2 separate regions of the Homo sapiens genome follow, and region 2 is linked to region 1. Evidence: fine-mapped expression QTL. A gene starts in region 1. The other region holds a variant in brackets. All regions are shown on one strand. Distances are from middle to middle. Region 1 holds the start of MS4A8 (membrane spanning 4-domains A8). Region 2 overlaps MS4A15 (membrane spanning 4-domains A15).

Evidence for each region. PIP is the estimated chance that this variant, and not a neighbour inherited with it, causes the effect.
Region 2: its variant is fine-mapped to the expression of MS4A8 in skeletal muscle (FUSION, PIP 0.95).

The regions. Positions count from the first base shown.
Region 1 is chr11:60,692,174-60,708,707 of GRCh38, forward strand. MS4A8 (membrane spanning 4-domains A8) reads left to right here and starts at 7,439. Exons shown (of 7, transcript NM_031457.2): 1 at 7,439-7,602; 2 at 8,687-8,906; 3 at 11,205-11,327; 4 at 14,815-14,874; 5 at 16,477-16,534. The coding sequence starts at 8,688. It overlaps LOC105369321 (a long non-coding RNA gene), which reads right to left and starts at 11,756. Exons shown (of 6, transcript XR_001748240.2): 1 at 11,566-11,756; 2 at 10,822-10,881. RefSeq lists enhancers at 8,483-8,984, 8,985-9,484.
Region 2 is chr11:60,757,264-60,767,005 of GRCh38, forward strand. It overlaps MS4A15 (membrane spanning 4-domains A15), which reads left to right. Exons shown (of 7, transcript NM_001098835.2): 2 at 6,443-6,695. The coding sequence starts at 6,471. Among named protein-coding and RNA genes, the nearest start is that of MS4A15, 5.3 kb to the left of the region's middle. RefSeq lists enhancers at 5,900-5,959, 5,990-6,079, 7,160-7,289, 8,017-8,196. The variant G/A (reference allele first, on the strand shown) is at 4,730.

The sequences.
Region 1 (16,534 bases):
TGCTGCAAGACCAACACTCAAGCGAACCACACTTCTCACAGAGTCTTGCCCATACTGTTCGCCTGAGAAGGGCCTGACCCTCTCTGGTCACAAGCCCACAGCTGGCACTATTTTGAGAGTTTAACACTAAGCTGTGCCCCACCCTTGGGCCAAGGTCAAGGTGACACAACAGCAGTCGCCACCCAACTGAGAGAGAGACAAGGAAGACCAAGGTCTCCAAAGCACACTTAGAACAATACCCACTGCCCTGCTAAAGGCAGCTGTGGGACCAGGGAGTAACCCACCCAATCCATTGCAGCTTCCAGCAACACCAACACAGATGGCATGGGTCACTGTGGTTTCCTCCACCACTGCTACTGCCACACCACGCCAGCTTCCCAGGGGCCTGAGACTCCACCCACACACCAGGCCCACTGCTCCCACTGCCCACTTCTAAGCAAGCAGCTTGGAGGCCCAAGAATGAGCCCTCTAGGACCGCTAACACAAGGGCCAGTATAAGCCACTCTGGAGCCTTAAAACAGGCTCGCTCACCCCAATGCTGCCACTACTCGGGCCCAAAGACTGGCTCAGTTGGTGTATTAGTTTGTTCTCACACTGCTATAGAGAAATACCTGATGGCCAGGCACAGTATTTGGGAGGGTGAGGCAGACAGATCACTTGAGGCCAGGAGTTTGAGACCAGCCTGGACAACATGGTGAAACCCTGTCTCTACTAAAATACAAAAATTAGATGGGTGTGGTGGTGCACACCTGTAATTCCAGCTACTTGGGAGGCTGAGGCATGAGAATCACTTGAACCTGGAAGGCGGAGGCTGCAGTGAGCTGAGATCGCAACACTGCACTCCAGCCTGGGTGACAGAGTGAGACCCTGTCTAAAAAAAAAAAAGAAGAAAGAAAGAGAGAGAGGGAGAGAGAGAAAGAAAGAGAGAAAGAGAGAAAGGAAGGAAGGAAGGAAGAGAAAGAAAAAAAGAAAGAAAGAAAGAGAAAGGAAAGAAAGAAAGAAAGAAAGAAAGAAAGAAAGAAAGAAAGAAAGAAAGAAGGAAAGAAAAAGAAAGAAAGAAAGAAAGAAAGAAAGAAAGAAAGAAAGAAAGAAAGAAAGAAAGAAAGAAAGAAAGAAAGAAAGAAAAAGAAAGAGAAAGAAAGAAAGAAAGGAAAGACCTGAGACTGGGTAATTTAAAAGAAAATAGGTTTAATTGCCTGGTGGTTCCACGGACTGTACAGGAAGCATGGCAGCATATGCTTCTGCAGAGGCCTCAGGGAGCTTTTCCTCATGACAGAAGGCAACATGGGAACAGGCATCTTACATGGTAGGAGCAGAACCGAGGCGGGGGGGTGCCCCACACTTTTAAACAACCAGATATCACACAAACTCACTCACTATTGTGACACAGTACCAAGGGGAAAATCTGCTCCTGTGATTCAATCGCCTGTCACCAGGCCCCACCTCCAACACTGGGGATTGCAATTCAACATGAGATTTGGGCAGGGACACAGACCAAAACCACATCAGTTGGCATCTAAGTCCCCAGCTAAAAGTCACCACAACCTTAACTGTACCATAAGTCACCAAGGCAATCCCAGAGACCACTGACTTTGTGTACTGCGAAAGAAGTCAAACAAAGATCACACTACTGCCAGCATGCAAAATCAAAGTCGAAGTATCTTAATCAACAACACGTACACAACCTCAGAAAAAAAAAAAAAATTCCCCTACCAAAGCAATTTCAAAAAATTGGAACAAGCAACTGCTACACTAGATGCAAAGACATCAATGGAAAAACACAGGAAGCATGAAAAAGCAGGGAAATGGGATATCATCAAAGGACCATAATTGTCCAGCAACAGATTCCAACAAAATGAATCCCTTGAAATGCCAGATAAATAATTTAAAATATTGATTTTTAAAGAAGCTTAATGAGATGCAAAGGATATCTGAAAATCAGGCCAGGCATAGTGTCTCGTGCCTGTAATCCCACTGTAATCCCAGCACTTTGGGAGGCCATGGCAGGTAGATCACATGAGGCCAGGAGTTCAAGACCAGCCTGGGCACCATACTGAAACCCTGTCTTTCTACTAAAAATACAAAAAAAAATGTAAGCTAATACAAGAAAATCAGTAAATCAATTCAGAAAATGAAAGAAAATAAAATCTCAGTACCTGAAGACATGTCTTTTGAAGTAATTCAGCCAGACAAAAATAAGGAAAAAAGAATTACAAAGGATAAACAAAGCCTTTAAGATATCTGAGATGATATAAAACAACCAAACTTACAAATTATCAGTACACCCAAGGGGGTAGAGAGATTCAAAAGTTTAGAAATGGCCAGGTGTAGCGGCTCATGCCTGTACTCCCAGCAATTTGGGAGGCCAAAGTGGGAGGACTGCTTGAGATCAAGAGTTCAAGACTAGCCTAAGCAAGAAAACAAGAATCTGCCTTTACAAATTTTTTTTTTTAAATTAGCCAGGCATGGTGGCTCATGTGTGTCATCCCAGCTACTTGAAGGGCTAAGGTGGGAGGATTGCTTGAGCCCAGGAGTTTGAGGTTGCAATGGGCCATGATTGTGCCACTGCACTCCAACCTGGGTGACAGAGTGAAACAAAACAAAACAAAAGCTTAGAAAACATATTTGAGGAAATAATCAATAAAAATGTCCCAAGAATATCAAGAGAGTTAGACATAAAGATACAGGAAGTCCAGTGATACCCAGGCAAACACATTGCAAAAAGGATCTCACCATGGCAATATTATATTCAGAATGTCTAAAGTCAATGAGAAAGAAAGAATTTTGTCAGTAACAATACAAAAGTTTCTAGTCACCTATAAAGAAAACTCCATTAGACTAACAGCAGACTTTTCAGCAGAAATCTTACAGGCCAGAAGAGAAGGGAATGGTATTTTCAAAGTGCTTGAACAAAAGAACTATCAGCCAAGAATTTTGTGTCCTGCCAAAATAGGTTTCATAAATAAAGTCCTTTCCAGGCAAGCAAACACTGAGGGAATTTGTCACCCCTACAAATGGTCACCCTACAGGAAATGCTCAAAGAGGTCTTAAACATGTGAATGAAAAGTCAATATCCATCATCATTAAAACCCATGGAAATATAAAACTTACAGTTTGTATAAAACAATCACACAAAGGAGGAAAAGAAAGGAATCAAATGGCAACATGACAAAATTTTACTAAACCACAAAGACAAAAAGACAGAAACAAAGAATCTATAACTTGAAATCGATCAACAATATGACAGGAACAAAGCTTCACATATCAATATTAACCCCGAAAGTAAATGGACTAAATGCTCCACTGAAAAGATGCAGATTGGCAGAATGGGTTTAAAAAATAATCCAAGTATATGCTGCCTACAAGAAACTCACCTTACCCACAAAAACACATATAGGTTGAAAGTAAAGAGGTGGAAAAGATATTCCAAGCAAACAGAAATAAAAGCAAGCAGGAGTAGTTATCCTTATGTCAGATAAAATAGACTTTAAATCAAAAACAGTAAGAAAGAACACAGAAGGGCATTACATAGTGATAAAGTGATCAAGAAGATGTAACAATCCTAAATATATATGCACCCAACATTGGAGCACCCAAATTTACAAAACAAATATTACTGCAGAAAACCAAATACCACATGTTCTCACTTATAAGTGGGAGCTAAATGATGAAAACTCATCAACACAAAGGGAACAATAGACACTGAGATCTATTTGAGGGTGAAGGGTAGGACGAGGAAGAGGAGCAGTAACATAACTATTGGGTACTGGGCTTAATACCTGGGTGATGAAATAATCTGTACAATGAACCCCCATGACATAAGTTTACCTATGTAATAAACCTTCATGTGTACCCCCAAACCTAAAAAAACACACACAAATATTACTACACCTAAAGAAAGAGAAAGACGAGAAAGGCAGCAACACAATAATAGTGGGGGACTTAACCACCCCACTTGCAGCACTAGACAGATCATAGGGAGAAAAAATTAACAAAGAAACATTGGCCTTAAATTGGACTTTAGACCAAATGGATTTAACAGGTATTTGTGCAGTGGTGCAATCTTGGCTCACTGCAACCTCCACTTCCTGGGTTCAAGTGATTCTCCTGCCTCAGCCTCCCAAGTAGCTGGGACTACAGGCATGCACCACCATGCCCGGCTACTTTTTTGTGTTTTTAGTAGAGACGGGGTTTCAGCATGTTGGTCAGGCTGGTCTTGAACTACTGACCTCAGATGATCCACCCTCCTCGGCCTCCCAAAATGCTGGGTTTACAGGCATGAGTCACTGCGCCTGGCCCAGAATATGCATTATTTTTATCAGCACATGGACCATTCCCCAAGATAGACTACATGTTAGGCCACAAAACTAGCCTTAAGAAATTTTTAAAAATTGAAATCATGTCAACTATCTTCTCAGATGACAATGCAATAAAGGTAAAAATCAGTACCAAGAGAAATTTCAGAAAGTATACAAATACATGGAAACTAAACAGCATGCTCCTGAACAATCACTGGGTCAATGAAGAAATTAAGACAGAAATTTAAAATTTTTATGAAATGAAAAGAAAAACACATCTTACCAAAACCTGTGGGATACAGTGAAAGTAGTTCTATGAGGGAAATTTATAGCATTAAATGCCTACATCAAAAAAAGCAGAAAGATGACAAATTAACAGCTTAATATTGTATCTCAAGGATGTAGAGAAACAAGGAGAAATCAAACCCGAAATTGGCAGAAGAAAAAAAAAAAGATCAAGGCAGGACTAAATAAATCAGAAATGAAAAAAGAATAAAAAGGATCAACGAAATGAAAAGTTTGTTCCTTGAAAAGATAAAATTGATAAACCACTAGCTAGACTAATAAAAGGGAGAGAAGATTCAAATAAACACAATCAGAATTGAAAATGAAGACATTACAATTGATACCACAGCAATACAAAAGGCTCTGACATAAGGATTTGGGTGCTTACTTGGGAAGTGACCCAAGACTCACTGTGAAAAAAAATGGAAAAGTGATACCAAAAAAAGGAAGAAAGTCAATAGACTATGTATTAATGAATGAGTTCTGTTATAGGGAACTGGTGCTTAATCCTGTTGGAGACTCTCTAAGAGACAGTTGAAACACACTTCAAAATTATTTCTCTTAGGGGACAGAGAAGCTAGGGTAGTTATCCAGCATATGCACGTTACACTGGATAGGAAAAATTCTTGTGGGATTAACTTCCCAGCACCTATGGCCTGCCCCATACCTATGCATCCTCGGAAAAGAAAGGAGTTGTCCATAGATGTGGAGACTGGCTGAAGATGCAGCATCAATACAGCATTTGCTGCAGAGTTTGCTCAGAGTTTGAGGCTGCAGTGAGCTATGATCACGTTACTGTACTCTAGCTTGAGCAAGACCCTGTCTCAAGACCTCCAGAGTGGATCAAGGGGATATAGATGCTGCATCAACAGCATTTGCTGAAGTAGGTTTGGACAATAATAATCTCCCTTGTATGTCTCCGGTCCCTTCTAGAAAGTTGGCACCACTTCTATAAACTCAATTAAAAGGTGACAAATTTCATCTTCTACAATATCTGGTTAAACCTGGTCCTGAATGTCCCACGTGCACTAGGGCTTAGCCACCTATATGTCCTCATTCAGATGCCTCTTATTATTTCTGTCAATACAGTTTGGTTCATGTTATTCGTCTTTACAAAAAGCTATTGAGTTACTTTATAGAGTTAGACAAATGCTAAAGTTCATTTGGAAAAACAAACATGCAAGAATAGCCATAAAATATAATGAAAAAGGAAAAATTACACAGGAGACTAACCCTACAGGACATTGAAGTACACTGGAAAGCCTCTATAATTAAAACATTGTTGAAATAACACATGAATAGACAAATAGACCAATAGAAAGTAAAAGAAAGACCAGAATTAGAACCAAATGCATATAGAAATTTAGGCTGTGACAAAGGTGGCATTTCAAATGCCGCTGAAGAGAAGATGAGCTATTTAATAAATTGCCCTGGGGCAGCCAGGTAGACTTTTGGAAAAATTTAAAATTAGACCCACATCTCATAGCATTCACAAAAAAATACATTTTACATGTATTAAGAATCAAAATGTAAAAAGTAAAACAATACAAGTATTAGAAGAAAACACAGCTAAATTCCTGTTTAATCTTAGTGTTAGGAAAGGCTTTCAAACAATGACTCAAATGCATAGGTAATAAAAGATAAGACTGATAAATTTTACTACAAAAATTTTTAAAATTTTTCTTGACAGAAAACCACCCTAAACAAAATCAAAAGACACTGTCAAAATTGGAGAATATACCAAAGACAAAGACCTAAAATCCCTAGTATGTAAAGAACTCTTTAAAAATTAAGGGACAAAGGTCCAGGAATCTGATAGAAAAAATGGGTAAAGAAGTAAAATTTGGGTTAGGCATGGTGGCTCACTCCTGTAATCCCTGCACTTTGGGAGGCCGAGGCAGGAGAATCATTTGAGGCCAGGAATTGAAGACCAGCCTGGGCAGCATAGTGAAATCCTGTCTCTACAAAAAATTTTAAGATTTAGCTGGCCACAGTAGTGCGTGCCTGCAGTCCCAGCTATTCAGGAGGCTGAGGCAGGTGGATTGCTTGAGCCTGGGAGTTTGAGGCTGCAGTGAACTATCACTGCACTCCAGCCTGAGCAAGACCCTGTCTCTAAAAAATACAAACAACAACAAAAAAGTGAAGTCTGACTCCAGCTACCTTTTCATCTTTTTTACATTCAATGTCCTTCACTGTGAGCCATTCCCAACATATCTCTACCTTCTCTTCCCCAAGACTTTTCCCTTTCCATACCCTCAACGGTGTTCTTTTTGTTTTGACCATCTTACAATGTTCTAGCCATCCCATCAACTTCATTTGTTCTTCATTGTTCACCTTCTTCAACGGTAAATCTGTCATGGACTATTACATGCAGCTGTTTTTGTACTGTGCAATTCACACGATGTATGTCATAGATATGTGGAATGCCCTCCCATGGATGGCTTCTGATTTTCTATTGGCTCTGACTTGGATGAAAATAGATCTAAGTTGATTACAAGTCTCATTTCACTCGCTGTGATTCTATCCCTTTCTGGACTGCAGTTTATTGATTTCATATGCCACCTTCTGTTTGAAGTCTTCCCTAATCTCTTCAAGTCCAACAAATCATTTTCTCCTCTGTTCTCCTGTGGGGACATTTATCTCTCTTCTGTGGTGTTTATTTCATCCTGTCTCATGTTACAGCTAAATACAGCACACCCTGGGTGCCCAGTTCATTTCTGTGTCTCCCAGAGCAACCAGCCCAACCCTTTCTTCTCCATGGAGATTATACCATAGACTCTTGTCAAATCAAACCATATTTAACTGGCTCATTAACCAAAACAGGAAATAAATACGAATGAAACTGAGCTCTAAGCAGCATGTAACCTGGCCTGCATCCAGGAAATAGAGGACTTCGGATCCTTCTAACCCTACCACCCAACTGGCCCCAGTACATTCATTCTCTCAGGAAAAAAAACAAGGTCCCCACAGCAAAGAAAAGGAATAGGATCAAGAGATACGTGGCTGCTGGCAGAGCAAGGTGAGTCTGCTTAATCTGGTGGTTGGTAACTGGGAGTTGGTGATAAGGTTTTTCTACCAAGTGAGACTTACGGCGAACCAGTGTGGATGAGGGATAGACAGAGTGTATTGTACTAGCTTTATTGAGTCTGCTCCAAGAGAAAGAAAGAGAAAGATAGGACATGGAGGGGGATGGGAGAAACAAAAAGAAAAAGAATTTTTAAAACCACATTAGAATGTATAAGTAGCCTAGAAAATTGAGCAGTGGAAGCCACCCAATGAACAGACACTGCCTTGGCAATGGGGCTTCCCTTGAGAAGGATAATCTCCATTTAACTAATATTGACATACCTGGGACCTTGGAGGATTCTTGTCCACTCTCTCACCCTGTTTCCTTTTCCAGAAAATGAGAGAATTGAACTCAATGTTGTCCAAGAGATTTTCTAGTTCTGAACTTTTGCTTTCAGCCAGTACTAACATATGCAAAGCAGCACTCTAAACACTATGAGAGGCCGGGTGCGGTGGTTCACATCTGTAATCCCAGCACTTTGGGAGGCCGAGGCAAGCGGATCGCCTGAGGTCAGGAGTTCGAGACCAGCCTGGCCAACAGGGGGAAACCCCATCTCTACTAAAAATACAAAAATTAGCTGGGTGTGGTGGCGGGGGCCTGTAATCCCAGATACTCAGGAGGCTGAGGCAGGAGAATTGCTTGAACCTGGGAGGCGGAGGTTGCAGTGAGCCAAGATCGTACCACTGCACTCCAGCCTGGGTGACAGAGCCAGACTCTGTCTCAAAAAAAAATTAAAAAATAAACACTATGAGAGACACAAAGATGGAAAAGATGGACCCCTTGCCCTCTGGTAGCCTTTAGCCTCTTTGAGTCTTAGTTTTCTCATCTGTAAAACTGGGCGGGTGAGAGGATGAAAGGAAATGTATTTGTAAAGCACCTCTTAAGTGCCCTATAACTGATATCTATTATTTGTAACATGGGATTCATAAACTTGTAGAGGGTTAAGATGCTCCAATGAGCTAGAAGAAGCAAAAGTCCTTTTTAAAGGACAAGTCCATATGTGAGGGAAAATTCTCTCGCATTTATTTCTTGGCAGCATGAATTCGATGACTTCAGCAGTTCCGGTGGCCAATTCTGTGTTGGTGGTGGCACCCCACAATGGTTATCCTGTGACCCCAGGAATTATGTCTCACGTGCCCCTGTATCCAAACAGCCAGCCGCAAGTCCACCTAGTTCCTGGGAACCCACCTAGTTTGGTGTCGAATGTGAATGGGCAGCCTGTGCAGAAAGCTCTGAAAGAAGGCAAAACCTTGGGGGTAAGTGAGATTTCCCTTTGCAGGCCACAGACTGCACAGCTGGAGTGATGGCAGGGGGAAGGGAAGGCCTGGGAAATACACAAACACTACATCCCGCAAGTGGGGCTGAGTTGATCGCGCCTTGCCAAGCACAGGTCTATTAGAAAGCTCAGCTGCACAACATCACAGGCGGCCTCTGCTCAGACCTTGTATTTTCTGATTTAGGCATTTTCGGAAAGAGAAAGAAAAGCAACAAAAAAGCAGCACGCTTGAAGGTTGATCCTGTTGCCAGGATCCACGCCCAGCCCTGTGGCCTCTGAAGAAAGGGGTCCCAGCAAGACCAAAATAGACCACAAGGTGGAGTCAGAATCCAATAAGATCGAATCAAATATTTGCCCAACAGGAAACAAAGCAGGTTAGGCAACCAACAACATAAATGGTCACCGCAACCCCTGAGAGGCTGTCCTGCGCTGGACAAAGAAAGGCCCATTTCACTGTGTAGCTGAATGATGGGCATGAATTTGGATGCAGACTGCCCGAGCTCCAACCCTAGCTCCACCCTCAGATAGTGCTCATGGGAACAAAAATTGATACAACCCTTAGGGAGGGAAATTTGTATCTGCCAAATTTACAAAATATCCAATAATTCCATTGCTGGAACTTCATCCTCCAGATATGCCTGTGCCCACAAAAACTGTGATATGTATGAGCTTATTCATTGCAGCGTGGTTTGTGATAACAAAAATATTGTAATATCCATCAATATAATACCGGTTAAGTCAGTATATTGGTTAAGTCAGTGTAATATACTGGTTAAGTCAGTGCATCCAAAGAATAAAATGTAGTGGAGCTATGAAAAGAACAAGAAAGCTCTTTGTGTAATGATAGGGACACACCCCAAGATATGGAGTTAATGGAAGAAAGTAAGGGGCAGACACTGTGTATAATTTGCTTACATTTATGTGAATTTAAGGAAGTAATATATTTGTATTTGCTACCACGTGTGTAATATACAAACATACACAGATGTTCTTTCATTTACAATGGGATTATGTCCCAGTGTACCCATCGTAAATTAAAAATATCATAAGTAAAAAATACATTTAATACATGTAGCCTACCAAACATCATAGCTTAGCCTCGCCTACCTTAAACAAGTTCAGAACACTTAGGTTAGCTTACAGCTGGGCAAAATCATCTAACACAAAGCCTATTTAATAGTGTTCTTGAATATCTAATGTAGTTTACTGAACACTGGACTGAAAATGAAAAGCAGAATGATTGTATGGGTACTCCAAATACGGTTTCTACTGAATTCATGTCACTTTCACACCATAATAAAGTTGAAAACTTTGTTTTTTTGAGACAGAGTCTCACTCTGTCACCCAGGCTGGAGCGCAGTGGCGCAGTCTTGGCTCACTGCAACCTCTGCCTCCTGGGTTTAAGCGATTCTCCCGCCTCAGCCTCCCAAGTAGCTGGGATTACAGGCACCCACCATCATGCCGAGCTAGTTTTTGTATTTTTGTAGAGACAGGGTTTCACCATGTTGGCCAGGCTGGTCTTGAACTCCTGACCTGTGATCCGCCCGTCTCAGCTTCCCAAAGTGCTGAGATTACAGGTGTGAGCCACTGTGCCTGGCCCACATGGCATTTTTTATAAGGACACCAATCATATTGGATTGGAGACCCACTCTACTCCAGTGTGACCTCATCTTGGCTGATTATATCTGCAACAACTCTGTTTTCAAATAGAGTCACATTCTGAGGCACTCAGCATTAGAATTTCAACACATGAATTTGGAGGAGGGTTGGGGGAGGGGAGCATAATTTAACACATAACAATATCCTAAAGAAATAAGAGATGAAGGCAAAGATTTACATAGAAGGATGTTTATCACAATGTTACATATAATAGAAAAAAGTAGAAATAATCTTACCTGTCCAATAACTCTGTCTCAACTACTCCACAGACCATCCATAATGGGATCTGAGCAGCCCTGAAAAAACATATGTTCCAAGAATACTTAATGCCATGAGGACACATTCATGATGAAATATTAAGTTAATAAAATTCAGGGGGCCATGTTGTGCTATCAAGGTATATATTTGAAAAGAATAATGGGAGAATACACCAAAATGTAAACAGTTGTTTTCTCCAGGCGGAGGGGAGATTACAGGTAGTTTTTATTTCATTTTTGTATTTCCCATATTACTTTTTAGACCATGAAAATAAAACATTTATTAAAATTAAAAGGAGGCTCATAGGGGAGGCAGGACCCAGCCTCAGAAACAAGACTTCAGCTTGTGGCTCTCCTGACAGGCCATCCAGATCATCATTGGCCTGGCTCACATCGGCCTCGGCTCCATCATGGCGACGGTTCTCGTAGGGGAATACCTGTCTATTTCATTCTACGGAGGCTTTCCCTTCTGGGGAGGCTTGTGGGTGAGTAACTCAAGTCCTCCTGCCGATGAGCTCCCAGAAGGTGCCAAGGCACTCAAGGCCACCTTGCCAAGTTGTGCAGCTGTGCCCTGCAGAAGGTTCCCAGCCACCCAAATGTGGGGGATAGGAAACCAGCCAGCCCTGGCCTCGTTCCGCAAGCATATTAGTTTGGTAGGGCCGGCCCAACAGAGTATAGCACCACAGGTTGGATGGCTTAAACAACAGAAATTTGTTATCTCACAGTTCTGGCGGCTGAAAGTCTGCGATGGAGATGTTAGCAGATGTTTTCCCCTAAGGTCTCTCTCCTTGGCTTGCAGAAGGTCGTCTTCTCCCTGAGCCTTTCCACGGCCTTCCTCCATGCCTGTGCCCTAGTCTCCTCTTCCTATGAGGACACCAGTCATTTTGGATTAGGGTCCCCCCTGATGACCTCATTTAACCTGAATGACGGTTTTAACAACCCTATCTCCAAACACAGTCAGATTCTGGAGCACTACAGATTAGGGCTTCAATCTACGAAATTTGGTGGGGGATAGAGGGTGTGGACACAATTCAGCCCATAATATCAAGCTACAACCCCGCAAGGTGACATCCCCTCAAAAGGGATGTATTTTCTTTTTACTTTTTTTTTTTTTTTTTTTTTTGAGATGGAGTCTCACTCTGTCGCCCAAGCTGGAGCGCAGTGGTGCAATCTCGGCTCACCGCAACCTCCCCCTCCCGGATTCAAGCAATTCTCCTGCCTCAGCCTCCCTAGTAGCTGGGATTACAGACGCGCACCACCACGCCCGGCTAATTTTTGTATTTTTAGTAGTGACAAGATTTCACCACGTTGGCCAGGCTGGTCTCAAACTCCTGACCTCAGGTGATCCACTTGCCTCAGCCTCCCAAAGTGCTGGGATTACAGGTGTGAGCCACCACACCCGGCCAAAAGGGATGTGTTTTCTTAATTCACAAAGAAAACATCCACATGTAAAAAATACACTGGGAATAGCCCCTGGCATTGTTGGACATAGGCCCACAAGCCTGAGCTCCAGGAGAAAAACACTCAGCAAAGGTGAAGAGTGGCTTCCCAGCTGTAGAACAGCAAGGGTTTGAGTGCTTGAGCACTGGGGACTCAATCTAGATCTGCAGATGGGCTTTGGGGGCTCCATTTTGGCAAAATACCTAATATGCTAAATGTGTATTATTTTTCTGGAAGGGTCCATAGCTTTCATCAGATTATCAGAGTGATCCGTGACTCCATAAAGTGTTAAGAACTACAGTCCTTCTTCCACATCAGTTTATTACCTTTATGGTTCCTTTGCAGTGTCCCCCTGCCCACACACACACACACACACACACATACACACACACACATACAAACAAACACACATACACACACACACACATACACACACACACTCTCTCTCTCTCTCCTTCTCCTCCCCTCTCCACCTTCCTTTCTCCTTTCTCTCCCTTCTGTTACAGTCTTCCTCCTGACTCACACACCTACATGTGACACTAATGCAACTTTCCTCATAAATGGCACAACTCCAGAGTAACCTAGGTGCCAGCCCAAGTCCCTCTACCTTATAAGAGTTAAATAAAATAGCCTAGAGCTATCTCCATCCCCGACAGCCACACAAGTTCTGCAAATGAACAGGGCTCCTCTAGCGAGGCTCTGCACACACCCAAACTCAGAACTCAGCCCCTTTCCCTCCCACAACCACTCACAAGATACCTGTTCCTGTATCTCTGACCTTCGTGGAATGTGGGGCTATGGAGAGGGCTAGCATCACGGCCACCCAGGCCTACCATTGAGCACACAATGCCTACCACGGAGCACTGGATTCCACCAAGTGCCAGTGAGCAGCAGGCAGTTGTCCTGGCATCTCAAATGCCTCACTGACCACGCCTCCTCCCACCAGGCTGCTGAGTCCCTTCAGCCCTCATGACCTTCCTCCTTTTGCTCTGCAGGGCAGTTGTGCTCTTTGCTGCCTTCTTGATCCCAGGACTGTCTTTCTATTTCCCAAAGATCATCAATATCCTCTTCTGAAACAAAGGCTCATCTCCTCTGGCACCTCAGAAGGACTGAGAGGGATACCAAAAGTCCAGCCCTTCCTCCCCATCAAATCTCTATAAACAGAAGGGTGTGAGCCTGAGATTTGTTTTTCCACTCATAGGAGAATATGGCCTTGGCCTTGGAAGGCAGAAACAGCTGGAATAAGTTTTCACTGTAAATAACTATGTCCACTCTATGGCACATGCATCTGCCGTGGGTGGGAGGGAGTATGGAGTGAGGGTTAGGAACATGGAGTCTGAAATCAAGCTGTCTGGATTTGATTCTCAAATGCATGTGCCATAGAGTGGAAACACTTATTTACAATGAAAACTCCGCTGGATGATGTTGTGTGAGTTGTTCAAAATCTCTAAGCCTCAGTCTCCTCATTGATAAAATGGCAAGAGTAATACTGCTTGATGGGCCACCATGTGGTTAAATGAGGCGAGGTTGAACAAGTACTTCATCTGTTGGGGGGAGGGCGGTGATGGGTTGCTAGTCGGTACGTGGCTTCTTTTGGGGCCGTTGCAAATGTTCTAACTTACATTGTAGTGATGATTGCACAACTTTATAAATATACTAAAAATAATTGCATAATATACTTTAAATGGGTGAATTATATGATACATGAATTATATGTCAATGAAGCCTTTTCTAAAAAAGCATTTTCTATAGTGCCCCACAAATGGTAGCTCCTATTAAATATAGCTCATGCCCTCTCATACCACTCTTGCTAGCCCACTGGGCAAATGATGGCAGGCAATCCCATCAGCCACAGTGCCTGCGGAATACCATGTTGGATGAAATGCACGCAATTGACATCATCATCCTCGTATTTGATGTTCAGCATCATAGCGACACAATGTTTATCTGAGTAACTAAAAGTTATTTGTCCAGATATGCAGGCAGGCAAGGATTGATGTCAGGCTTCTATCTAAAAGCAGCAGAGAAGACGCTGGTAACCCCTTCCTTCTCCCCTCCAGAGCCCCCAAACCTAACTGAATCTTGATATAAAGATTGGAAAACAATAGGGTGTACTTGTGGGAAAATAAAATACAAGGAAATAATCCAACATTTGAGCATCTACTAAGTGTAAAGATATACTAAATGCCAGATGTAGGGCATAAGTTGTCTCATGACAATGACACTTGGGAAGAGCTATAAATTTTTCCATTTTGTAGATGAGGAAATAAAGACTTAGAGAAGTTAATAACTTACCCAAGGTCAAGAGTTTCTAGCCAGAATTTAAAACCAGGTTTGCTGGATCCTAGAATATATATTTATCCCACCCCAGTGCCTTTTCAGGCAGTGCAAAACAGCTCATTTTTTCTGTTGCCCATGTTGAGCTGATGGTTCCAGCAAAGGTACCCACTGTGTGTGACCAGAATCACAGAAGCCTGGGGAAGGGCACCCTAGCCCCTGACCTCTTTCTAAACCCACTCTGTTCTGTACCAGTTTATCATTTCAGGATCTCTCTCCGTGGCAGCAGAAAATCAGCCATATTCTTATTGCCTGGTAAGTTACATTCTGAGACCAGCTCTTCCAACTGGAGACCTATAGAATGGTGTCACAAAGGGGAAAATAAGGTCACATACGATTCCTCCCCCAGCCTTGCACCTACTATAACCAGACACACGGTGCTCACACACATTCCCGCTCATACAGACTGGCCACAGGAGCCTGGCCCTGGAGTCACATGTGGAAAAGTCCCAAGAGGATGCAGAAGTGAGAAGGGGCAATACAGTCACCTTAGTTAAGGCATCAGAGTATGGAGAGCGAGAGAGAGAGAGAGAGAGAGAGATAACAGCTTTCCTAAGAAGCCCTGCCACAGAGAGGCACAGAGCTCCCAGGGGCCCAGGGCTGCCCTCTAGCAGACCAGGAGCCAAGAGTACTTCCAGTACAGAGAAGAGGACTCCGGGGAAGCCGAAGGAGGCTCAGTCACTCGCTTTCCTAAGGAATCCAGCCAACAGAACTCTGATAATCAACATGGACAAAGCTTTGTGCTCCCCTAGCAACAGACCAAGAAATACCTTCATTTGTCTCATAATCAGGTTACGAAGGGTAAAGGGTGACCAGGTCCCTACAACCAGATGAGATCTATTTGAAAGTCTTCAAAAGAAAGCTCAAAATGTGGAAGCGTATCTTTCTGCACATGGCCCAGAATCATGGAGCATCTGAGCTTATCACATCCCAAGACACTTGGGCTAAGATTCTATTTATCCTATGGGACAAATAGGTCAAGTGTTTCCCAGAGATTATTCTTTTTTCTTTTTCTTTTTCTTTTTTTTTTTTTTTTTTTTTTTGTGTGTGTGTGTGAGACAGAGTCTCACTGTGTCCCCCAGGCTGGAATGCAGTGGTTTGATCTCAACTCACTGCAGCATCTGCCTCCTGGGTTCAAGCAATTCTCCTGCCTCAGCCTCCCTAGTAGCTGGGATTACAGGTGCACACCACCATGCCCAGCTAATTATTGTATTTTTTGTATTTTTTGGTATTTTGGTAGAGACGGAGTTTTGCCATTTTGGCCAGGCTGGTCTTGAACTCCTGACCTCAGGTGATCCACCTGCCTCAGCCTCCCAAAGTGCTGGGATTACAGATGTGAGCATCCGCGTCCAGCCCCAAAGATTATTCTTGAGAACACTTCTCCCATGATATGCTCAATGAAGATAGTTACATGAACTTGGGAAAATCTCTATGTATTGTTTCCTCTCTGAAAGATCTAAAGTCCTCATTAAAGGCTCTGAGAAGTCCCACCACGATGATCTGTTTACCTTTGCCCAACCCAGCTATTTTCAAAGCTAACTTACCCCAAAACCTTTCTTGCACAGAACACCCCTTTACTTGCAGTGGAAATAGGGTTCCTGGGATTCACATTAAGAAACACTTTTTGATGAAAAGAGTTATAGAGATGGATGGTGGCAATGGTTGCACAGCATTGTAGATGTGTTTAATGCTACTGAACTGTAACACTTGAAAATGATTAGGATGTTAAATTTTATGTTACATATATGTTAACACAATTTTAGAAATTGGGGGGAAAAAGAAACACTTGTTGGGTCTCCATTCATCTCAGCTATAACAGCTTTTCTCGCCCATCCTGACCCTCTGTGTCTTCTTCAGCTGTCTGGCAGTTTGGGCTTGAACATCGTCAGTGCAATCTGCTCTGCAGTTGGAGTCA
Region 2 (9,742 bases), 62 kb after region 1:
TTTCCTGATCAAGGAACCTTAGACTTGAGTTATGGAGCAGGTAGGTCACTGCCTGAAAACAGGATGTGAGCAAGGTCATTTTACTGAGGTTATTGTTTTGACCACCTGGGCGCCGGTACACTCGGTGTTGTATCCTCTTTATCTGCCAGATTGCAGTGGGTCAGACCGCCCGTCTTTGCCTGAAGGGAATTCAGGAGGTTTAAAGGAGAAGGAAGAACAGGAGCCAACCAGGACAGCGGGAGGCGGGCGGGGGGTCCTCTCTCTACTTCATTCCCTTCTGTAGGGCATAAGGAGGATATTTTTTTCTAGTGATCATGAGGACGGACCGGAGCCTTTTCCTCCCCCTATAGAAAAGCCATTGCCCTCTTTTCCTCCACCCTTAAAGGGACCTGTATTCGTTGGCCCCGTTCAGGCAATGGCGCCTCCCATCCCCCTTGAGGAGTCTGGAGGCCGCCCAAGAGATGGTTCTTGGATAAGACCTCCAGTCAGTGAATATCTATATGATCGGGTGGCCGTGTCCTCAACGCCAACTCCTCGTCAAACTTTCTTAGTAGAGGGGTGCCTCCAAGAGGGACTTAGGAAGGGAGACTCTGAGGCGCTTTTTGGCGCATTCCCTGTTATTGTTCAAAGCAACAGGAGATGGCATGAGAGTTTGCCTTTTACTGTCTTTAAAGAGTTAAAGAAAAGTATCCGTGAAAACAGTGTACATTCACCGTTTACGAAGGAGGTGATTGAGGCTCTGGGAAATGGCTATAAGATGACTCCACATGATTGGAAAACTTTGGTAAATGTTTTGGTTTCAGCTGCAGAATATACTGTGTGGTGGAGTGAGTACAGTGATTTAGCCATGCAGCAGTCCTTGCAAAATTTGGATAATAATATCCCGATACAACTTGATATGCTATTGGGAACAGGGCCTTTTGCTTCAGCTCAGACTCAGGGTCAAGCAGGTGGCCATCTATTTCCTCAATGCTCACAGCTAGCAATACAAACATAAAAAAAAAAAATCCCGTAAGACAATCCCAGGGTTCCTTTATAACAGTTAAACAAGGTGCCACAGAAACATACATTAAATTTATCAACCGACTGCAAGCTGCAATTGAAAAACAGGTATCCCATCCTAAGGCTACCAAACTTCTTATGTTACAATTGGCTTTTGAAAAAGCAAATAAGGATTGTCAGACAGCAATAACTCCAGTCTAAGCCACTGCCACTGAAATCAGTGTGTTTATTAAAGCATGCCAAAATATAGGCACTACAACTCATCTGACTCAAACTTTTGCTGCAATAATGACCGGAACCACATATTGTAATTGTGACCTAACCAGGCATATGGCAAAAATAACCCTGCTACTGTTTTCCTACCTTTAAGCAAAAAACAATTTCATACTCTTCTAGCTTGTGCTCTTGATTGGCAAATCGCAATAGCTGACTTTATTGGTAATATCAGCTTTCATTTACCAGCCTCTAAGCTCCTGAACTTTTTACAAACTGTGCCTGTTAAATTTGTATCTATTGTTGTTTCTGAGCCCTTGCTTCATGCCACTACTGTCTTTACAGATGGTTTAGGAAAAACTGGAAGAGCAGCTACAGTGTGGCAATAGGCCATGCAAAAATGGCAGCACAAAATCCAGGAACATTTTAAAACCACGCAACAGGCAGAGTTAGGTGCCCTGATATTGGCCTTACAAACTTTTCCTCACCAAGACATAAACATAGTTAGTGATTCCGCTTATGCGGTGTGTAGTATTACTCATTTAGATCTTGCACATGTGAAGGGCATTACTAATGAACCCCTACTAGCTTTGTTTCTTGCAGCGTAAGAGCTCCTCTGTGACCATCATTGTGGGGAAAAGAAAGAGAGATCAGACTGTTACTGTGCCTATGTAGAAAAGGAAGACAAAAGAAACTCCATTTTGATCTGTACAAAGAAAAATTGTTATGCTTTGAGACGCTGTTAACCTGTAACTTTAGCCCCAACCCTGTGCTCACAGAAACATGTGCTGTACTGAATCAAGGTTTAAGGGATTTAGGGGTATGCAGGATGTGCCTTGTTAACTATATGTTTGCAGACAGTATGCTTGGTAAAAGTCATCGCCATTCTCCATTCTCTATTAACCAGGGACACGATGCACTGCGGAAAGCCGCAGGGACCTCTGCCCAAGAAAGCCTGGGTGTTGTCCAAGGTTTCCCCCGACTGAGACAGCCCGAGATATGGCCTCGTGGGATTGGAAAGACCTTACCATCCCCTAGCCCGACACCCGTAAAGGGTCTGTGCTGAGGAGGATTAGTAAAAGAGGAAGGCCTCTTTGTGGTTGAGATAAGAGGAAGTCCTCTGTTTCCCACATGTCCCTGGGAATGGAATGTCTCGGTGTAAAGCCGACTATTCGTTCTATTCTGAGATAGGAGAAAACTGCCCTGTGGCTGGAGGCGAGATATGCTGGCAGCAATACTGCTCTGTTACTCTTTACTAACTGAGATGTTTGGGTAAAGAGAAACATAAATCTAGCCTACGTGCACATCTGGGCACAGTACCTTCCCTTGAACTTATTTATGATGCAGATTCCCTTACTCACATGTTTTCCTGCTGACCTTCTCCCCACCATCACCCTGTTCACCCTGTTCTTCTGCCGCACCCCCCATGCCAAGATAGTGAAAATAGTAATCAATAAACCCTGAGGGAACTCGGAGACCGGCGCCGGTGCAGTTCCTCGCATGCTGAGTGTGCCGGACCCCTGGGCCCACCGTTCTTTCTCTGTACTTTGTGTCTTATTTCTTTTCTCAGTCTCTTGTCTCCACCTGACGAGAAATACCCACAGGTGTGGAGGGGCAAGCCCCCTTCGATCATCACCCTCTTTACATCACACATATTCACTCTCATTCTGGGCTACCTGGTCCCTTATCAGAAGGGAACGCTCGAGCTAATGCTCTGGTACACACACAGATGTGGTTTGCAGACTCTCCTGCTTTTTTGCGAATTCAAGCTGATCATGCTTTTTTTCCATCAGAACGCCTGCAGTCTTAAACAACAGTTTCATTTAACACTTGCTCAAGCTCACATGATTATTAAAACTTATCCTGATTGCCAATGGCATTCTCTTTCCCCTTTTTCCTTAGGACTTGGTGCCAACCCACGAGGTCTGGTGCCTAATGCTATCTGGCAAACTGATGTTACTCAGTATCCACCCTTTGGACGTTTTAAATCTCTCCATGTTACTGTGGACACTTATATAGACCTAATACATGCTATCCCCATGCCGGAGAAAAAACTAAAGATGCAGTTGCTCATTTGTTTGAATCTATTATGACTCCAGGCCTTCCACAAACTGTAAAACTGATAATGGCCCCTGCTATCTTAGTGCTCACTTTGGCTATGCATTGCAACTTTGGCAATAAGATCAACATACAACCCAAGACTGGGATTCTCTGTAACTCAACCAGTCAGGCCATTATTAAACAAGCTCATCAAACTCGTAAAGTATATCTTAATAAACAAAAAAGGGGGAATATCGGGCCCTCTTCTCGAGAACAGGACCTGTCATTGGAGAATCGACTGACAATGACGGTGATGACTCAGAAGGCACCTGACATTACCTGGGGACAGCTAAAGAAATTGGATCAACAGGCAACTATCCGGCTTGCAGGCATAGAAGCCTCTGTAACTGCAGAGAATCAGTTTCTTATGTATCTGGGGGTAATTGGGAAAACTTCTGAGAAAGTAAGACGACATAGATGTTGGGGTGGCTGGTAATTCTTGTCCTTTGCCAAGTGGGATCACCTCAAGAACATGTTTACTGGAGTCATGTTCTAAATCCCCCTGTTTTTAATGTTATTTCATGGTGGGATGCTGACCTGCCTTTGTCATCTAATGATACTTCTTGGACGAGAGGTCGATGGATGCCCCTGTCTTACCCTTCAGTGGAAAATTTGGGATGGATTAAACTTAATAACTCCTTGGTTGTATTGTCTAGTAATCCCCCTCTTTGTTTTTCCACAATAGCACATGCTAAGTGTGTTACTCTTATTCTTCAGGAGTATCTTTACTATCAGTGTAAAAGGGATGCTAAGCTTGCAAACTTGACCTTTATTTCTGCTATTACCACTAATCTTACTGAGGTCTCTAATGAAGCTACACAAGTGCCTGATCTTCCTATATGCCGTCTGAGTAGGGACTGGGGATATAAGTTTGAGGCCATTCAGTGGTCTCCATCCAGACAGCCTGCGCCATGTCAAGGGCCTCTGTTTGATAATGGCACCTTACTTGATTGGAGTCCCCATGGTTATCTTATGTCTGCAAATCAGACTATTGGATCTGGGAGTCCCCAGTAAGTCTATCACCTGGTCAGAGTACAGGCTTTCAGGACCAATATTACAACTAAAAGGGAAACAAGCTTTAAGCCCTGCTCATACCCAAATTTGGAGATTAGAACTTCCTTTTTTTGAATGGGTTCTTTCACATGATGAGTATATTACTAGCAGTGGCAATTATACCCTCTGTTTCCATAATAATGTTACTGACATAGTTGTGATTTGTACTACGCACTCTTATATACTTTTGTTTGGGCAAAGTGTTCCTAATATAGAGCAGAATCAATCCTTTTATAGTAGTAAAGTCTCTTCCAGTAGTTAGTATGCTACATGCCTGTCTCATCGAAATGTTACATAGTTAAATATAACCTATGTCATGATCTTAAAATGGCGTGCAGAATTTTGGCTGCCTGTAAATTTA[G/A]CCTGGAGCTGGGAAGGAGATTCAACCCTGCAGCTGTTTAGAAAAGCACTGTCTCATACTCAGAAAAAAAGATTTCTGGCCACTTTAATTGCTTTTTTAGTCTCAGCTATTATTATATTAGCAACTGCTGCTACTGCAGCTGCTTTTTCTAACAAAATCTATTCACACAGCTTCAGTGGTGAACCACATGGTATATAATGTAACCCATAAATTTCAAAAACAGGTAAATATTAATCAAACTACTCTGTCTCACCTGGAGGCTCTTAAAGCTGCAGTTGAATGGCTGGGGGATCAGCAGCTGGCATTCATTACCCATCAACATTTATATTGTAATTGGCAATATAATTCTATCTATGTCACACCTCTGCCATATAATAGCTCCCAATATGCTTGGGAGAGAGTGAAAACACACCTGCAAGGGGCTTATCACAATCATTAGTCTTCTCAAATTCCCACTCTTAAGTGTAAATTTAAAAAACAACTTAAAAAATGGTCACAGCAATTATAAACAAATACCCTTCAACAATTATAAAAAGGCTTTCAATAGTTAAACCCAAACACTTAGTTATCTGGGTTAAACATACACATTTGGGTAATGGCCAATATACTTATTCTTTTTTGTATTTGTTTGCTAGGTATGTACAAATGGCTCTGTGCTGTCACTCAGTGCATCTATAACCAAGAAAAAGCAATAAAAGCTTACCTCGCTTTAAATAACCAACATACTCTAAAAATTAAAGAAGGGGGAGATGTTGAGGGTGCACGGCAACATATCCAAGCTTATGTACATGGCATTTGAGGTTGGGGCATGGAAAAATACTGAGGCACTCTGTGTATGTTATTTATGCATGAGAATGTAACTCCTTGACCCTAAAAACAGGACAAGGATTGAGGTGTGTAATAAGGAACGCTGAAAACAGCCTCCTAAGAAGGTGGTTTGAGAGCTTTTATAAGGTCATAGGTGTCTCATGACCCTCAAAAAGCCATCTAGTGGATGTTTGTGGTTTAACAAGCTCTTTCAATAAATACTTGGCGGACAGATGCTGGGGTGGACTCTCTCAGAAGAGCTCCCCGCCACCCCCGCTCGAGGCCCACTCAGCTGGAATTGTCTAAGAACTCATTCTTGGCATTCACTGCAAGCTATAAACTCTGCATAAAGTTTCCATATCTACACATTTCTTGGCTACATCAATGGTAATTGCTTGGGTGGCCAAATAGAAAGCTTCCCACAGCAGGTGGGAAGTTCCCATACCCAGGGGAATTATTGACGCTAGCTCAATAGTTGAGAGCTGAGAGGCAGGAAGTGGCAGTGAGTCCTGGTCTCGGGGTGAAGAAACCGGTACTCTAGCTAAGCTCTACCTTGCACTAGCTGTGTGTCCTTAGGTAAGTCACTTGCCCTTTCTGGGAAAAGAAGGGCATTTAAATAAACACTCCTCCAAAAGGAGCTTTCCACATAATATAGCTCAGAGATTAAGAGCAAGGCCTCTGAAACCAGAGAGACTAGAATTCAAATCTCAGTCTTACCCCACCTACAGGCCCTTGACCTCAGACATCTTTCGCTTCTCTGAGTCTCAGCTTCCCCAGCTTTGATGAGAGCGTTTGGGGCCATACTGGCAGGGCTGCAGTAAGCAAGGGAAGTAGGCACGTTGCTTATCAACTAAAAAGCTTTATGCACATGGGTGACAATCATCATTGCCATTATTATCTCCCAAGCCTTTGTTTCCCAGGCTCTCTGAGCACGATGTCTGCAGCTCCCGCCAGCAATGGAGTGTTTGTTGTCATCCCGCCAAACAACGCCAGTGGCCTCTGCCCACCTCCGGCCATTCTGCCCACATCCATGTGCCAACCTCCAGGGATTATGCAGTTTGAGGAGCCACCGCTGGGGGCACAGACACCAAGGGCCACACAGCCACCTGACTTGCGGCCCGTGGAGACATTCCTGACAGGAGAGCCCAAAGTTTTGGGGGTAAGAACAGCCTCTCTGCACAACCTGAGGCAGGTAGTGAGTATCCCAGCACCGGAACATTCATGCATGTTTTGGAGAGGGGAGAAGGCAGTTAACAAATATGTAGTAATGACTCAAAGATTCAGCCATGCACCAGGTAGACAAGCACCCTTCCCGCATAAAGTTCACAGAGAGTAAACCAGTAAACAAATGACTCAGAAACCTCCAAAGAGAAAAGTAAGGTTGAAAATGATGACTAGGGCTAAGGGGAATACTAGCGAGGGTAGGTGGAAACTTGTCTCTGGGGAGATGACATTTAAGCCCAAACCTGGCTGTTAGATTGAAGCCAGCCAAGGGAATAGCTAGTGGAAGGGCTGGAGAGGGAGGGCTCACCAGGTAGAGTGCAAAGGCCTTGGGAATGAGTGTGGCTGTTAAAGGAAGAGGTGGAAGCTCGCCATAGCTGGAATGTAATGAGCAAAGGAAAGGGGGAGGTGAGATGGAATGAAAGTGATAGATGAAAGTCAGCCCTGATAGAGCTGAAGGCACATGAAGGATTTCAATCTCAGATGGCCTTGAGCTATTGGTCTCAATAAAATACTGAAGTCATAAAATATTAGGTAGAGATAGAAAGATACATACACACATTTGCACGTGTGTGTGTATACATGTAGCGTTAAAAAGAAAAGCTTTAGGCCAGGTGAGGTGGCTTACGCCTGTAATCCCAGCACTTTGGGAGGCCGAGGCAGGCAGATCATGAAGTCAGGAGATCAAGACCAACCTGGCCAACATGGTGAAACCCCGTCTCTACTAGAAATACAAAAATTAGCTGGGTGTGGAGCCGTGTGCCTGTAGTCCCAGCTACTCGGGAGGCTGAGGCAGGAGAATTGCTTGAACCCGGGAGGTGGAGGTTGCAGTGAGCTGCGATCATGCCACTGCACTCCAGCCTGGGTGACAGTGTGAGACCCCATTTAAAAAAAAAAAGAAAAAGAAAAGCTTTAAACAAATTAAATTTAGCAGAGTTTATGTGAGCTAAGAATAATTCAGGAATCTGGCAGCACTCAAAACCAGAAGAGGTTCAGAGAGCTCCATCCAGCTGTGTGAGCAGTAAGCTCTTATAGGCCAAACACAGAAGTGAAGTAGAGAAATCTCCCGATCAGCTGCAGCTAGGTGTCTGCCTTATTTGGGCATGATGTCATGAGGCATTTGCCTTATTTGGGCATAGTCTGATCAGTTGGCTGAAGCTGTTTGTCATTAGCTGAAACCCAGCTATCTGTTACAAAAATATACTCCTAGGTTAGGTTTCAGTGTGTTTCTGTACTGGTTGGGTTGCAGTTTGTTATGTAGGAACTCAAATTATGGAGACAGGCTAATGGCCACCTGCTATTTTAATTATATACACACATATGTAGATTCTTCAGTATGTTCCTTGGCCTCAGTTTCTCCAAGTAGAAGATGAAAGCATAGATTAAGCAATGGTGATGATGATGAAGGTGAAGATGATGACAGCTCTTACTTATGAAGCATCTCTGAGAGGTGCACGTACTGTGCCGGGGACTTTGCATGCATCATCTCACTAGATTCTCAGCACCACCTTGTAAGAAGGGGATCATCGTTCCTGTTGGACAGATTACGAAACTGAGGTTTCTTAAGACTAAGTCATTTGCCTAAGGCCACACAGCTGATAAATGGCATCCTGTAAACTAGGGATGGCTGACCCTAAAGTTCTACTTTCAACCCCTCTGCTTTGTGGCGTCCAGGACCTCTGGCTCAATCATGCTGGAATTCTATCCTAATAGCTGCACCACATCCATTGGTGCAGAGGGGGACTGGACTGGGGGCACAGACACCAAGGGCCACACAGCCACTGACTTGTGGCCCATGGAGACAGCGGCTGGAATTTCGAAGCCTCAAAGCGGACCCTGGGAACCAGAGCTCTCCCCCTCCAAAAAAAAAAAAAAAATTGATGAGACAAACAAACTGCTGAAAAGCACAAAAAAGTGGAAAATACAAATAAGAGTTATGGAATGCCACCCGCTAAGAATACCACTGCAGACTTAGCTGGCCTGCCGCCTCATAGCTGGGACACTTCGGGCAAGTTACTGAACATCTCTGACCTTCAGTTTCCTCATCTCCAAAATTAGGATAATAATAACCTACCTCTGGCCAGGCGCAGTGGCCCACGCCTGTAATCCCAGCACTGTGGGAGGCCAAGATGGGTGGATCACCTGAGGTCAGGAGTTCGAGACCAGCCTGGCCAACATGGCGAAACCCCGTTTGTACTAAAAGTACAAAAATTAGCCAGGTGTGGTGGCAGGCACCTGTAATCCCCATTACTCAGGAGGCTGAGGCAGGAGAATCACCTAAACCTGGGAGGCAGAGTTTGCAGTGAGCTGAGATGGTGCCATTGCACTCCAGCCTGGGCAACAAGAGTGAAACTCCTTCTCAAAAATAATAATAATAATAGTAATAACCTACCTCTTCTCATTAGGATTAAATGAGACCACATCTGTAAAACCCCCAGCACAGTGCTTAGCATAGACAGGCATTCAATAAGCGGCAGCTGGTGTTTCCCAAGGCATAATGGCAGTAGCTGTGGTGGTCTATCCACAGGGGAAAGATCTAAGGAAGGGGAGCAACGCTGGCGACTTGGACACCATGCCATGCTGTGCCCTGTGAGGACACTGAAAAGATGAAAGACGTGTAGCTGAAGAGAAAAAGAAGCTGAAGATTCAGGGGCTCATGTCCATGAATATCCAAATACTTGGCACTCATGTTAGAAAGAAATATATATTCCACGTGATGCTGACATGACAATTCTAGTTGTTCCCAGTCAGAACTGCCCATAAAAGGACCATGCTGGTTTGGGTAGTGGTGAGTACTGGTCACTGGAGTCCCCGTGAAAGTCACGGAGCCGGAAGTGGCTCCTGGGCTCCCAGGGCTGGATTCCAGCGGTCTTCAACATCTCTTTCCACTCAGTTCCGGAATTCAATAGTTACCCAAAACGTTGCAATGTTTCTGCTATTTGGCAGACCTTACTAGAAGCTCACACTTGGGAAAACCATCCCACT